Linked DNA regions of Homo sapiens: region 2 is reported to be linked to region 1. Evidence: microRNA targets listed by miRTarBase, many of them from high-throughput screens and not tested one by one. Region 1 holds a microRNA gene; the other region holds the end of a gene's coding sequence.
Evidence for each region. The annotated mature microRNA hsa-miR-339-3p reads UGAGCGCCUCGACGACAGAGCCG and lies in region 1 at 3,359-3,381, shown strand. An mRNA with a match to its seed (bases 2 to 7 or 8) in the 3' UTR can be bound and repressed. Matches are read on the target gene's strand: a 7mer-m8 pairs with bases 2 to 8, a 7mer-A1 pairs with bases 2 to 7 and ends in A, and an 8mer does both.

Region 2: miRTarBase lists WDTC1 as a target of hsa-miR-339-3p. Seed matches in the 3' UTR shown: 7mer-m8 at 1,712-1,718.

Annotation. Positions count from the first base shown.
Region 1 is chr7:1,019,074-1,026,335 of GRCh38, reverse strand. It overlaps MIR339 (microRNA 339), which reads left to right and starts at 3,310; the gene lies at 3,310-3,403. All of the region lies in intron 2 of CHLSN (cholesin), which reads left to right. RefSeq lists an enhancer at 2,642-3,199.
Region 2 is chr1:27,305,435-27,312,434 of GRCh38, forward strand. WDTC1 (WD and tetratricopeptide repeats 1) reads left to right here. Exons shown (of 16, transcript NM_001276252.2): 16 at 752-3,202. The coding sequence ends at 949. Among named protein-coding and RNA genes, the nearest start is that of TMEM222, 13 kb to the right of the region's middle. RefSeq lists enhancers at 1,822-2,347, 2,348-2,873, 2,874-3,398.

The DNA.
Region 1 (7,262 bases):
CCCAGCAGCTGGAGCGCTGGCTCTGCGAGGGCTCTTCAGCAATGCCAGGTGCAGCTGGGCTCCACCCTCAACTGGTCCAATAGTAGCGAAAGAAACGAGGAGTGTCGTGAATCGTTAGACAGCGTCCATATGCCTAAGTTCAAATTGGAGCCGCCCAGCCCTACCTGTGGATACAAAGCTGCCGTTCAGTGGGGAGCTGGAGCCGAGGGGCCTATGTGACACCCCTGCATGTGGATGAAAATCACCCAGAGGCCCTGCCAACATTCTGGGAGGTGGCAAGGGGGCAGGGCCTCTGGGATCTGGGGTCACGAGTTCCAGGAGGCCTGCTTCTGCTTCTGCCCAGCAGTTCACTCTTCCCTCCACTGCAGCTGAAGCTTGAGCTGCTGCGGGGCCCACCTGGCCGGAGGCAGAAGGGAGCCCTCCGTCCCAGGCAGCGTCCTGGTGGGTGTCTGTCCTGTGCCAGACACTGGCCACAGAGGCTGAGAAAGGAGAGGACCCCAGCCTGCCTCTGGAGGCCCAGGGGAGGCAGTGAAGGGCCCAAGGCTGGTGATGCAGGAGTTTCCAGAGCGCAGGGAAATACAGAGCAAGAAACGCCAGCCCTCAGCTCCACTGGGGAGCCACGCAACCTCTACCGGTGCTGAGGGGTTACAAAGCTCTGTTACCAGCCCCATTCCTCCTGGATGGGCGAGGTCGGTCCGTATCACACCCCCAACCTCTTGTGCTCTGCGACCTCAGAATACACGGAGCTGTGTCCACAGGCCTCAGCGGCTGTGAGCCCCTCGCCTACACTGGGGGGTCCTCAGCTGACACCTGAGCCAGTGTCCTGTGCCCCAGTGGTGCCAGGGCAGAGTCCCCCTCCCTGACCTGACTTGTGCACCTCGTCACCCACCGCCAGCAGTGTCCCCCCACAACAGGCTTGCTCAGTACAGCACCCAACCCAAGTCCCCAGCACCCACACCCCAGTGAGTTTCCTGTGCCCTATAGGCTCAGCTGCTTCTCGTCCTCCCCCCACTTGGGATCCTTGGAACAGGGAGTGGTTCTTATTTAGGTCCCTGAGGTACCAAGCACAGGCTTTGCTCTTAGCAGCCGCCACTCCAGTGATGAAGCCGTTAGCAGACTGGCCTCTGCAGAGCTCTGCGGGGAGGTGCCTGGCTTCTCCGGCCTCCACCCTGGCCCAGAGCTGCCTCCTGAGCAGCGGATCCCAACCTGCCTGCCCCTGGGGCTGGGTCTCCAGCAGTCAGGACTGAGTTGTTGCTAGCTGCTGACAGGTGTGGGGCGAAGGGGGCGCATTTGCCGCATGTCCCCATTGGCAGCATCTCCACGCCTTCCCTTGTGACACCTCCAACCAGAATAGAGCAGGTATGTGGGAGCCCGCACCTGCTCCCCCAGCGCCCCGGGGTCGTCTTCTGCCTGCTCCTTCTGTCCTCCACACTGAAGAGTGTGCTCCAGCTGGGGATGGGCATGTGTGACGCTGGGGAATGGATACCTGTGAAATGGTGGAGTGTGCATCAAGTCTAAATAGCCGCTCGCAGGATCTGGGGGCTTTTTGTTTTCAGAAACCTGATCTGATCTTTATAAAAAGTGCTCCCCCACTCAGTCAGCCTGGGTGTCCCTCCCGTCCAGGCCAGCAGCGCTGTCTGGCTCGGCAAGGAGGGGCTGAAACTGGAGAGCCCCTGGGAAGGCTCTTGTGGGCCAGGTGGCAGCGGGGAGGGTGGCTCTTGTTCCCCGCCCTCATCCTAGCGTTCAGCAGACTGCCCCACACCACAGGTTTCCATTTTCACCCTTGGGTTAAGAGAAAAGCAGAAATAAAAAGTTTCTAATGTTGCTTGCGAAATTCAGCACTGGCCACCAAAGGCACCTGGGGCTTCTGCGTCTCTCTTGTCCCCTGGGGCTCCTGCGTCTCTCCTGTCCCATGGGTCCGTTTCTTGCTGTTTATTGCAACCCGCCTACATCGTTGGTGTGTGCAGCTGAACTCAGGCTGTTTAGGAAGCCCACGGGCAGGGCTCTGTGGGGCCCATTCCTGGTCCCACGTCTCTGGCAAGGGCTCCTCTTGAGCTGAGGCTTCTGAGCTCCTGCAGGCGGGAGTAGGGAGGCAGGTCCCACTGTCAGCCAAGCTGCAGGGTTTTTAGGAAGAAAGTGGGGGCTGTGCACCGTGGGCTCACACCTATAATCCCAGCACTTTGAGGCTGGCCGGAAGGATCGCTGTGGCCCAGGAGTTTGAAAACTCATGCCTATAATCCCAGCACTTTGGGAGGCCGGCAAGGAGGATCACTTTAGCTCAGGAGTGTGAGAGCAGCCTTGGTCCTATCTCTATAAAAAATTTAAAAACTGGCCAGGCATGGTGGCACATGCCTATAGTCCTGGTTGCTTGGGAGGCTGAGGTGGGAGGATTGCTTGAGCCCAGGAGGTCGAGGCTGCAGTAAACTGTGATGGTGCCGCTGCAGTCCAGCCTGGGCCACAGAGCAAGACCGTGTATCAAAAGGAAAGGGCTGCTGTGGAAGGGCCTCCAGTCCCCTGGCCTGGGCTGCAGGGGCCGCTGCTCCAGCCCTGCCTTCTACATGTGCCGAGATGTGAGCAGTCACCCCTGGAGATCCTCACCCCTTCTCTGTAGAACGAGGAGTTGGGCTGCCAGGGATTGGGGTCTGGGCGCGTTGCTGGTGTGTGTGTGTGTGTGTGTGTGTGTGTGTGTGTGTGTGTGTGTGTGTGTGTGTTTCCTGGGAGGAGGCCCCCACAGTCTTCGTCATGTTCTCCAGGGCCCAGTGGGAAGGAGTTGGAAGTTGGATGGAGAGAAATGTGGAGTAGGGCAGGAACCTCCTTCCTAGGAAGGAGCCTGCGGGGGACCCTGCAAGGGGTCCCAGGTTCCCAGGAGGCCTCGGGTGTGCTGTCAGAGGGGCGCTGGGGCTGGGAGTCTGTCCATGTCTTCAGCCTGGGTCTCGTGAGTTCAGGGAGTTTGAACCTGGGTGGAGAATGAGCCCCTGTGCGTCTTCCCTAACCTCCAGCTGACACGAGCTTCCGCAGACCCCGCGGTGGCGGGTGTGGGCGCTCCCCGTGCCATCTGTTGGGGACACCTCACACATCACTTGCGCTCAGCCCGTGTCGCGGCTGCAGGAGCCACCAGACCTTGTAAATACTCGGATGCCCACATCTGCTCGTCTGTGTCTCCCTGTGGCTGTGCATCAGACCTCACGCGTTTAAAACGTCCTTCTGAGAAGGGGCCACAGGCAGGTGCCACCCATTGCCACGGCACCATGGCAGGAAGCGTCCCATGCTCTGCAGGGGTGGCAGGAAGCGTCCTGTGCTCCGCAGGGGCGGGGCGGCCGCTCTCCCTGTCCTCCAGGAGCTCACGTGTGCCTGCCTGTGAGCGCCTCGACGACAGAGCCGGCGCCTGCCCCAGTGTCTGCGCCGGGACCATGGAGTGGCCAGCTCGCCGCGGAGACGTCGCCGCGCTTTGTAGCAGCCCCTGGACTCGTATGCGTGGGTCTTCTGATGCAGTGTGTTTTATTCGGTATCAACATGGAAGGGGGAGAGCATGGGATGTTCCACTGGTGTCCTAGGGAGGAAGTAACTGGGGAGGGAGGACGGTTGGGGGGGATTCACCTTTAAAGAATTTGAGAGCTTGTTTATTTTGCAGAATAAGAGTAAATTAATCCCCTGTGTGTTTCTGATCATTAAGAAGACCACATCGATGCTGTTGGTTGTGGGACTGTCATTTCAGAGTCCGGATCCGAATGTGGTCCTGGCTACTCTGCGAGGGTTGCCGTGGGAGGAGGTGGTGGAGGGCACGTGGGCGTCCCGTGTTCCCTCACGACGGCCGTCACCTGCGATTGCGTTAAAATAAAAGGCTTAATTTAAAAAACTCTTGTTTCTCAGAAAAAGCAGTTTACTACTGTGAGTTAACGCCGTGGGATTCTAATAATTGAGGTGACAAATCTGATTAAGGTTTTCTTTAAATTGGAACAGAATCCGTACGGGTGCCCCATGAGAGGGCTGTGGGACGTGGGACCAGGCTCCTGACCTTGGAACCCCTGGGTGGGGTCTGAGGCGATGCAGGAGAAAGAGGAGCTCGTGGTCCAGGAGGCGCCCGTGGGTGGGGACATGCCTCCCCGCAGGCCTGCGTCTGTCCTCGTGGGACGGGGCCAGGCTTCTGGTCCTTCCCTCCTGAGCTGCCGTCACCACCGTGGCTCACGAACAGTGCAGCGGGGCTCCTGGTGGTCTGCGAGCAGACTCCGGTGGACTCAGGGTTGGTTGCCCTGTCCAGGGGGCCTCGAGTGCTCCAGGACATGGCCTGTCCGATGTGGCCCAGGCGCCACGCCTGTGGGCCGTCATCGCTGTCACCTGGGTGTGCCGAGGGACTTGGGCTTTCCTGCCACCCCCGCGGAGGATCGAACCTTGTGACCCAGGCCGAGGGAGCTGCCCTGGGTGCCCCTCAGGCTCCTGCTCCCCAGGACTCAGTTTATACCCCAAAACCCAGCCTCGCCCCGCGGAAGGGCGCGCATCCCAGTGTGTTTCCCTGTGCCAGGCACAGTTCTCGCTGGGCGGGTATTTTTGCCGCATGCTTTCTTTTAGTGCGCTGTTTGTGTATGGTTGTTGGTGAGCTGTGGTTTCTGTCTGGTGACAAGTAGGGAGGGGTTAGGGGGGTGGTGTCCTGCCTCCAGCCGACCTGCCGGGGTTCCCAGAGGGCACTGCGGTGGCAGCAAAGCCAGTCACACTGGGGCTGGCAGATTGTCCCTCTCCCATCCAACAGCATGGGGAAATGATTGATGACTGACAGCTGCTGAAGCCCTACTCCTGTGCGGTGGATGGACAGTGCTCCCTGGGGTCCCAGCTCCAACTACTGGCATCTTGTCAAAGCAGCAGCCCAGGTGGCCACCACTGCCGATCAGACTTAATGGATGAAGACAGGAAGGCTGGGCAGAGCCCTTCAGCTTCCGACTCTGGTTCAGTCACTGAAATCCGCAATATCATCTCTGTCAAGGTCAGGTCCTACTGCCACGATGAAAAGGCTTCTGGGGAAGAAGAAAGAAACCTGCCCCATGGGTGCCAGCCTGGAGGTCCACACTAGAGGTCCCTGCTGGGAGATCCTCAGCCTGGAGGTTCCCAACCTGGGGGTCCGTGCTGGGAGGTCCCCAGTCTGGAGGTCCCCAACCTGGAGGTTCTTAACCTGGTGATCCCCAACCAGAAGGTCCCTACTGGAATGTCTCCAGCCTGGAGGTTCCCAACCTGGAGTTCCCTGCTGCGAGGTCCCCAGCCTGGAGGTGCCTGCCTGAAGGTCCCCAGCCTGGAGGCCCTGCTGGGAGGTCCCCAACCTGGAGGTACCTGCCCGAAGGTCCCCAGCCTGGAGGTACCTGCCTGAAGGTCCCCAGCCTGGAGGCCCTGCTGGGAGGTCCCATCTGAAGGCTCCACCTGGTGGTGTCTTTCGTAACCCCAGTCCCCAGCTCTGCTGTATCAGGACGTTACAAACGGCCTGATTGCCCCCAAGAAAGTCGAGGGGTCCTGACCCCTGCACTCCTCCGTTTCACACAGCCTGGGGAGCCCAGAGGAGCAGGACATCCAAGGCCCAGGCCGTCTGCAGGGGTGGTCAGCAGACGGCAGTGATGGGCTGGTGTCTGCCCCTGAGATCAGAGGTGAACAGGAATGGGAGCCTCTGTTTCCTGCAGGTCCTCCCTGCTCGGGAGGTGGGTTCGGTAAGGGCTGGGTTTACTGTCATTCATTTCCTTACATCATCTTGGTCTTAGCTGTGTGAGACTAGCTGTCCCTGCAGTCTGGGAGGGGTTGGCCTGTTCCCCAACCCGCTACAGCCCCCTTGTGTGTGGTATCCGCCAGACATATCTCGATAGTGGGGGCTCCAGGTGGGGGCGCCGAGGGGCCCTTGGGTGGAGACGCAAGATGGGGCAGCGGCTGGCGAGAAGCGAACCTAGGGGGCTCCTCTCTGGGGCCCAGGAAGAGTTCTTGGAGAGGCTGTCCTGGCTCTGACAGGAGAGCGGGCCTCCCCTTTGGTGGGCGTGCTGGGCGGGGCCCCAGGCTGCAGGAGGACTGTGATGGGAGCAAGGGGTGCCCCCTCTCTCAGGGAGCCCCAGGAGGGCAGAGGCTGCAGCGCGTGTTCACAGGACGGGAGCATGAGGGAATGCACTCCGCGGCGTGGGAAGAAACAGTCGTGGGGACCAGGGCATCGCACGCGGGGCCTGCCGCATCCATGCACTGCTGGGCCTGGTGCCCGTGTTCCCGCAGAGCAGCAGACACCACCACTCCGCCGGCCCTTGGATCTCTCCTCAGTGGGAAGAGAGGCTGGGGACGGGCCGGCCACCTGCCGCCTCGCTGGACTTCTGCCCTGGGATTCCTGAGACGAGAGCCGAGCGTCCTAAGCTGCCCTCGTCCAGGTGCCCCGTGGCCTCCCTCGGGAAACGCACTGTAGCTTGGCCTCCGGGCCGCGGTCAGTGCCTGCGGGCCTCTGGGTCCAGGCTGTGGGAACTGTCCACTTCCTGGGAGGGCAGGAGTGAGAGACCTGAGTGGGTGACCCCAGGCAGCCCCAGCCCCCCACACTCCATCAGGAGAAGAGGGGTCAGGGCCACAGCCAACCAGTCTCCGCTTCCTGCTTGCTTCCCACCGCCTCTGCCCATCTGGAAGCCCTGGCTGCAGTGGGGGCCCTCCTCGTGGTGATGGGCCTGGAGGTTCTTGGCGGCCACTGGAGCTTCCTGCAGCCACTAGGCCTGCGCAGCCTCCCCTCTGCCCACAGGGCAGCCCCACGGCCACCTCCGCTCTGTGGTTTGCCTTCTTGGACTCAGGGCTTCACTGTTTTGAAAAGCCCGGGTGCTGCAGTGAGGACCCCGCTCCGCATTTCTGCCGGGAGCTGTGAGCAGCCAGGCCAGCCTCCTCACGGTGCCAGGAAGCCTCTCCTTCTGGCCCAGAGCAGCAGCTGCCCCTTCCAGCATTGACCGTGGGTGATCAACAACCTGGCATGGGGGCAGGATTTTCCCTATAGAACCATTGAACAACACGGACCTGTCAGCTCAAGGTACCTTCTGGCTTTGCAGGTGGCTAGAGATCCATGCAACCACAGGTGGGCCTGGTTGGGCCCCTCCAAACCCTCACCCTCTTCCTCCCTCCCTTTCACTCCCCCCCCCCCGTTTTTTTTTTTTTTTTTTGAGACAGAGTCTCACTCTATTGCCCAGGCTGGAGTGCAATGGCGCGATCTTGGCTTACTGCAACCTCTGCCCCCCGCGGGTTCAAGCAGTTCTGCCGCAGCCTCTCGGGTAGCTGGGATT
Region 2 (7,000 bases), not on the chromosome of region 1:
GCCTAAGTTTGAATCCAGTCTCCTCACTCGCTGCCTGAGAGACTTCACCATCTCTGACCCAGGCTTTTAATCATCTGTACATTGGGAATGGGAATGACAGCACCACCTTGAAAGGTTGTGGTGAGAAGTAAAGAAGAGATGCCTGTGAAGTGTCCAGCCCACAAGGACACTTAGGACAGTGGAGTCCCCTCCACTCCCAGGGTGGGTAGCCAGGGAAGCTGGCTTGGTGCCTCCCCTTCCCCTCTGCCCTACTGCTTCCCTCTTCCCAGCTGGCAAAACAAAAGTCAAGTGGTATGTCTGATTCCCAAGATAATTTGCTGTGACTTTTAAAGAGAGGACCCCTATAGGCTTCCCCATTGAGAGGAGAGGAGAAAGAAAGATGAAGCAAGAGTTGTGGCAACAAAACAGAATGGGGTGGGGAAGTTGTATCTGCCCCTTGTCCCAGGTATCCCAGTATGTGTGTCCAACATATCCTGGTGTGTACTGTCCCCCACGTATATCCCAGCATGTTATGACCTGCCTGTATATCCTGAGGTGGCGTATCTCCCATATATATTCCAGCGTGAGCACCCCCAACAATATGTAGCCAAGGTTGTGTGTTCCCCTCCACCATATACACCTCCTGGCATGTATGTGTACCTCCCCCTATAGATAGTTTAGTCTGTGTATTTCCCTCCCCCTCCCCTATACGTGTACCCTGGTGCCTCTCCCTCCCTGAGCCCCACGTGTGTCACCCCTTTCTCCACCACAGAGTGAAGACCTCACAGGCCGAGTCGTGGAAGATATGGAGGGTGCTTCACAGGCCAACCAGCGGCGCATGAATGCAGACCCGTTGGAGGTGATGCTGCTCAACATGGGCTACCGGATCACGGGCCTGAGCAGTGGGGGTGCCGGGGCCTCTGATGATGAGGACAGCTCTGAGGGCCAGGTGCAGTGCCGGCCCAGCTAGACCCTCCAGCCCTGGTCCCCAGCCCCTGCTACTGGCTGGACCCTCTGCCCTGGGCAGGAGGTCAGGGGATTCTGTTTTGGTTTGTCTTCCCCACCACCCTTTTTTTTCATTTCCCCTGTTTTGTTTGTTAGTTTGGCGTTAGGGGTGGAGGTTGCTACAACTTGCTGGCTTTCGGACTCTGGGCTGATTGTCCCCTGACTATCCCCAGCCCTGAAAAAAAGAGCAGGAGGGGACACCCCTCCATATGCCCCCCCCCATCTCCTGCTTTCATGTCCCTGGAGGGCTCTGGCCTGCCTCAAAACCCCTTCTGCCTCAGGTGGGGAGGAACAAGCTGAACTGTCTTCAGGGACTGTCCTGCCCTTTAGCTGGCAGCAGCAGGAGGAGTGGGATTCCCAATTGGTAAGGGCTCGCCTTGGCCTGTTGCCACTCTTGCTCCCTAGCCTGCAAGGCTAGCTCCCCTGTGGTCTTCAGGAAAGGTTTTGAAAAAGGATGGGTCCCACCCTCCCTCCAGAGCCACCAGTGTTAGAGCGGAGCCCAAAGGAAGGATGGGAGCCCTGGAGTGGGCAAGACCAGGCCACCTGCTGAGGTCGCTGTGGAGCACCCTCGCTCCTCTCCTGGCTACTAGCTCTGGCCCTGCACCTACTCTCACTGGCCACCTCTGGAGGCTCTGCCTTTCCCAAGGGCCCTGGCAGAGGGTGGGGCACTGCACCTTACCCCACCCATCCATGCCAGCACTTCTGCACTACGGCCATTCTCCTCTTGGGCGCTCCTCAGCCTCACTGTGACCTTTCTGCCAGAGCTCCCAGCCAGGCCTACTCTGCTGAGGTGGCGCTTCCTGCTAAGGGCCCTTCTCTGCCCTTTCTGCCCTCCTTCCCATCCCACATGCTGAGCCGCCACAAAGACCAAAGAAGTGATGGCTTTTCTCTGTCCCCTGCTGCTCTGAGGGGAGAGGGGTGGGTCTCCTGAGCCACTCAGATGGGAAAGTCCCTTACTCGGCCCCTCCCTCCCCAGCAGCCCCAAGCTTTACACTGGATGCAGCGATCAACCCACCACTCACCAGGCCTCTCCTCCCCTCTGCCCCCGGCTCTTAGCTCCAGCTGCTCCAGGTAGTTGGTTCATCCTTCCCCCTCTCTCCCTCCCTGCTTCCCCTTCAGTGCTTACTTGGCTCCAGCCCTCCAGCTGCAGCCCCTGGGGAAAAGCAGCCTCCCTTCTCCTCTCCCTCCACTCCCTCGCTCCCTCCCTCAGCCCCTGTCTCTGCCAGGTGCCTCCTCTCAGTCAGGCTTCAGAGCAGCCCTGGAGACAGGAGGGCCATGTTAAAAGCTTTTTCACAGTTTTAAGAAGACAAGTGGAGGGTGAGGATAGTGGTGGGGGGTCTGGCACCATCTCATTGCTTTAATCCCAGCAACACAGGTGGCAGCTTCTCCCCCTTCCTTCCCACCCCAGTCCCTCTTCCCACCCCTCTCTTCTAGCTTGGTAATGAAGTATATTTATTGGTGAAGGAAACAGCTGCTGCTGCTTCTCCTGCTGCTGGGACCTGCTCCCCTGTCTCTTCTCCGTGACCTTTCTCTAGCCAGGGAGAAGGGAGAGCAGGAGTATTGGGGCTGGGCCCTGGGGCCCAAGGACCAGCTGGGTCCCCTTTGCTTTCTTGTGTTCCAGCCACCTGCCATTTCCTCCCTGCCTCCCACCCTCCCTCCCTGCCCCCTGTCCTGCTTCCCACCCCCTGCCTGCCCAGCCTGGGCCCTGCAGTGTGGAGAGACACATAAGCCTTACTGTCCTCTGGGGGCAGGAGCCGAGCCTTTTTGTTGCTCCGCTCCCAGGAGAGTGAGGGTGACGCAATTGATTAAAACCATTTTGTTCTAGGTGTGGCTGGTGGCATTTGTGGGGTGCAGATGGGTCTTGGAACCAAAGTGAGGGCACCTGGTCCCTCACCTCTGTAGCTCTATGACTTAGTAACCACACCTCTACTGGACAGAATGAGGCCTGCCTTGAAGGGTCACCGTGAGCAGCGGCCACCCAGCCCAGCAGGGCTGAGTGCAGAGCCCAGCTCTCATGGCTGTGATTTGTAATCATCAGCTTTCACTCTCTGGCTGTTTTCTCATCAGTAAAATAAGGGACTTGGAATCTTAGTGGTTTTTCAAACCATTTTACATTGTGACCCAATATACACATGATTACTTGTAGATATGTGTGTGTGTATATATATATAAAAAAAATGAACAAAAGTTTTACACAATAATATTTACCCTTGCTACATGCAGTGTACTCTGCTTACCCTTCTGTTTTATTAGGGAAAAAAATATGGCTATAACCCACTAAATTGATTTCACATATGCAAGTTTTTGAAGTGCCCTGGATTAGATAATCTCTTAGACTATAGGTTCCTGAACTTTCTTAGCTCACAGCACCATTACCATCTCAGTAATTTTTTCATGGAGCCTCTAAGCCAAAAGAAATAACAGTTCAATTTATTAAGTAGTTAAGTCCAAATCACTTAAAAAGTATTTATGTCCTAACAAGTTAGTTGCCATTTAAAAAATAATACACCTGAATTGGAAGAAACAATATTTATTTCATTCTTTTTTTTTTTTTTTTTTTTTGAGACGGAGTCTTGCTCTGTTGCCCAGGCTGGAGTGCAGTGGCATGATCTCAGCTCACTGCAACCACCGCCTCCCGGGTTCAAGTGATTCTCCTACCTCAGCCTCCCAAGTAGCTGGGATTACAGGCATGTGCCACCATGCCCAGCTATTTTTTTTTTTTTGCATTTTTATTTATTTTTTATTTTTTATTTTTTTTTTGAGACAGTTTCGTTTTTGTCGCCCAGGCTGGAGTGCAATTGTGCAATTGCGGCTCACTGCAACCTCCGCCTCCTGGGTTCAAGCGATTCTCCTGCCTCAGCCTCCCAAGTAGCTGGGATTACAGGTGCCCGCCACCACACCCAGCTAATTTTTTGTATTTTTAGCAGAGATGGGGTTTCACCACCTTGGCCAGGCTGGTCTCAAACTCCTGACCTCAGGTGATCTGCCCGCCTCAACCTCCCAAAGTGCTGGGATTACAGGTGTGAGCCACCGCGCCCAGCCTTCATTCTTAAACAACTGCAATTACTAATGGGATCTATGCTGCCCATTGGGCACTGAACAACTTGTTAAATTTTCTAATCAAAGCAAACACTGCTGCCTTCATTTCCTGTCCCACATTGATTTTCATTTGCTTTTTATCACAGCAACCACTAAAGACCCAGCTTCTTTTTTTTTTTTTTTTTTTTTTTTGAGGCGGAGTCTTGCTCTGTTGCCCAGGCTGGAGTGCAGTGGTGCGATTTCGGCTCACCGCAAGCTCCACCTTCTGAGTTCATGCCATTCTCCTGCCTCAGCCTCCTGAGTAGCTGGGACTACAGGCAGCTGCCACCAGACCTGGCTTATTTTTTATGTTTTTAGTAGAGATGGGGTTTCACCACGTTAGCCAAGATGGTCTCGCTCTCCTGACCTTGTGGTCCACCCGCCTCGGCCTCCCAAAGTGCTGGGATTACAGGCATGAGCCACTGCGCCCGGCCAAGACCCAGCTTCTTAAAGATGACATCATCAAAAGGATTGTGGCATAATGTAATAATGGAACTGTGAACTACCTTGAGCTAATAGTTCTCTCATTAGCCAAAGATGTTGAATATCTTTCAAAATATCCTACTTTGCCCCCTGTGAATTTGCTGTGGGTGCCCTCAGGCACCTTGATGCACAGTTGGGGAACTATGGTTTAGTCTGTGGGAATAGCAGTTCCACTACTGAAACTACTGAGAGGTCCTGCCGGAAACACAATAGGTGGTATTATAAAACAGATACTGTGGGCTGGTATCATTCCTCTGTGTACCCAAATTAACGTCTGCAGAAGCTTCTTGAAGGCATTTCCAGACCAGACAAAGGAAGGACAATGTTCCAGACCAGGGAGTAGTGCAGAGTCTCAGGTTCCTTCATGAACCCTGAGTGACTCCATCTGGCTGGATTGTAGAGGGTAGACTGGAGGAGCAGTCAAACTGAAGGACTTCCTATGGCTGGTGAGAGACCACAGACTCAATCCTGTAGGCAAGGGAGGCATTGGAAGACTTCACGAGGGTCTCCATTTCATTTGGAGTTGGTACTCCATTTTTTAAAAAATTAATAGCCTTTACTTTCTAGAGCAGTTTTAGGCTTACAGAAAATTGAGCAGATAGTATAATGAGTTTCATATAACCCTCTTTCCCCAGCTCAATTTTCCCAATTATTAACATCTTGCATTAGTGTGTTGTTGTAATTAATGAACCAATATTGATACATTATGATAACTGAAGTCCATAGTTTACATTACGGTTCACTCTTTGTGTTGCAAAGTTCTATGGGTTTTGACAAATGCATGTCTCGTATCCACCATTACATTGTCATACAGAATAGTTTCACTGTTCTAAAAGCACCTTGTCCTCCACGTATTCAGCCCTCATTAGCATCCCCCCAAAAAAGTACTTAGGAATAAATCTAACAACATATGTACAAGGTTTGTATGAGCAAAACTACAAAACTGATAAAAGAAACCAAGGAAGATCAAGTAAATGGAGAGATGGTCCATGTTCACGGATAGGAAAACTCAATATTAGGATGTCAGTTCTTTCCAACTTGATCTATAGCTTCAATGTGATCCTGGTCATAGTCCCAGCAAGTTATTTTGTGAGTATCACCAACTGATCCTAAAGTTTACATGAAAATGTAGCAGACCCAGAATAGTTCCACTGTTCCACCTCCTTCTGCCTCTCCTGGTGCCGTTTGTGTGCTCATTCATTCTGTGCAGACCTGGTGCCTCATTGGTGAAGTAGCAGCTGAGGAGACTCCAGCACTCGTGTGGCTGATGAAAAGCCCAAGGAAGGAGTCAAGACTGAGAATAACAATCTTATTAATTTGAAGGTAATGGGGCAGGATTGTTCCATGGTGCAGTTTAAAATTAAAAGTCATATACCGGCCGGGTATGGTGGCTCACACCTGTAATCCCAGCACTTTGGGAGGCCAAGGTGGGTGGATCACCTGAGGTCTGGAGTTTGAGACCAGCCTGACCAATATGGTGAAACCCCGTCTCTACTAAAAATACAAAAAAATAGCTGGACATGGTGGTATGTGCCTGTAGTCTCAGCTACTTGGGAAGCTGAGGCAGGAGAATTGCTTGAACCCGGGAGGCGGAGGTTGCAGTGAGCCGAGATCGCGCCACTGCCCTCCAGCCTGGGTGACAGAACGAGATGCCATCTCATAAAAGAAAAAAAAAGAGTCATATACCACTTAGTAGAGTAATGAAAGTCTATTGTGAATGACAGAGTTTGTCAGTGAGGCAGATCAGATTCTAATTTGACAGGCAACCAGTCAATGAAACAGACACACCTGCACAGTTGGAAATGGAGGATGAAGATACAATTGATGTGTTTCAGCAACAGACAAGAAGTGTCTACTGAAAAAGGAACCTGCTTCTTTACTCTAGAACTTTGTTCTTATAGACCAAGATTACATTCTCAATTAGAAAACTGCAATTTGGTTCCACCACATCATGACTATTACTATAGTATAGTTTTCTCTATTCTTTTATTTTTCCCTTACCCATTCCCTTATTGTACATAAAATAATGGGTGTATGTTCACAAGCATTTTGCTGTTTTAAATATTAAATGGCCAATGACATCCACTTGATGTCAATCAAAACATATCTGTGGGGAAAAATACCGATTCTTGAAAATTACCTCCCTTTCTCCATCAGTGGCATGCTCATTCAACTCTTATCTTACATTGCAATGTTATTTTGTTCTCACTATTTTAACAAAAAAAAAAAATCCTTGCATACCTTATTCAATTGGAGAATTTTAATGTTTTTCATTTATCATTGTAAAACCAAGGACAATTTTATAACTTTTCGTGTATATAGCTCTTACATGTAGGGCAATCTGTCTTTAACTAGAGATAAATTACTCTTAAAAAAAAATCCTAAATAGTTTTCCTTTAAAGTCAAGCATCTTGTTGTTTAAATAAACTTCTTGTTAAAAATGGAGAAAAAGAAG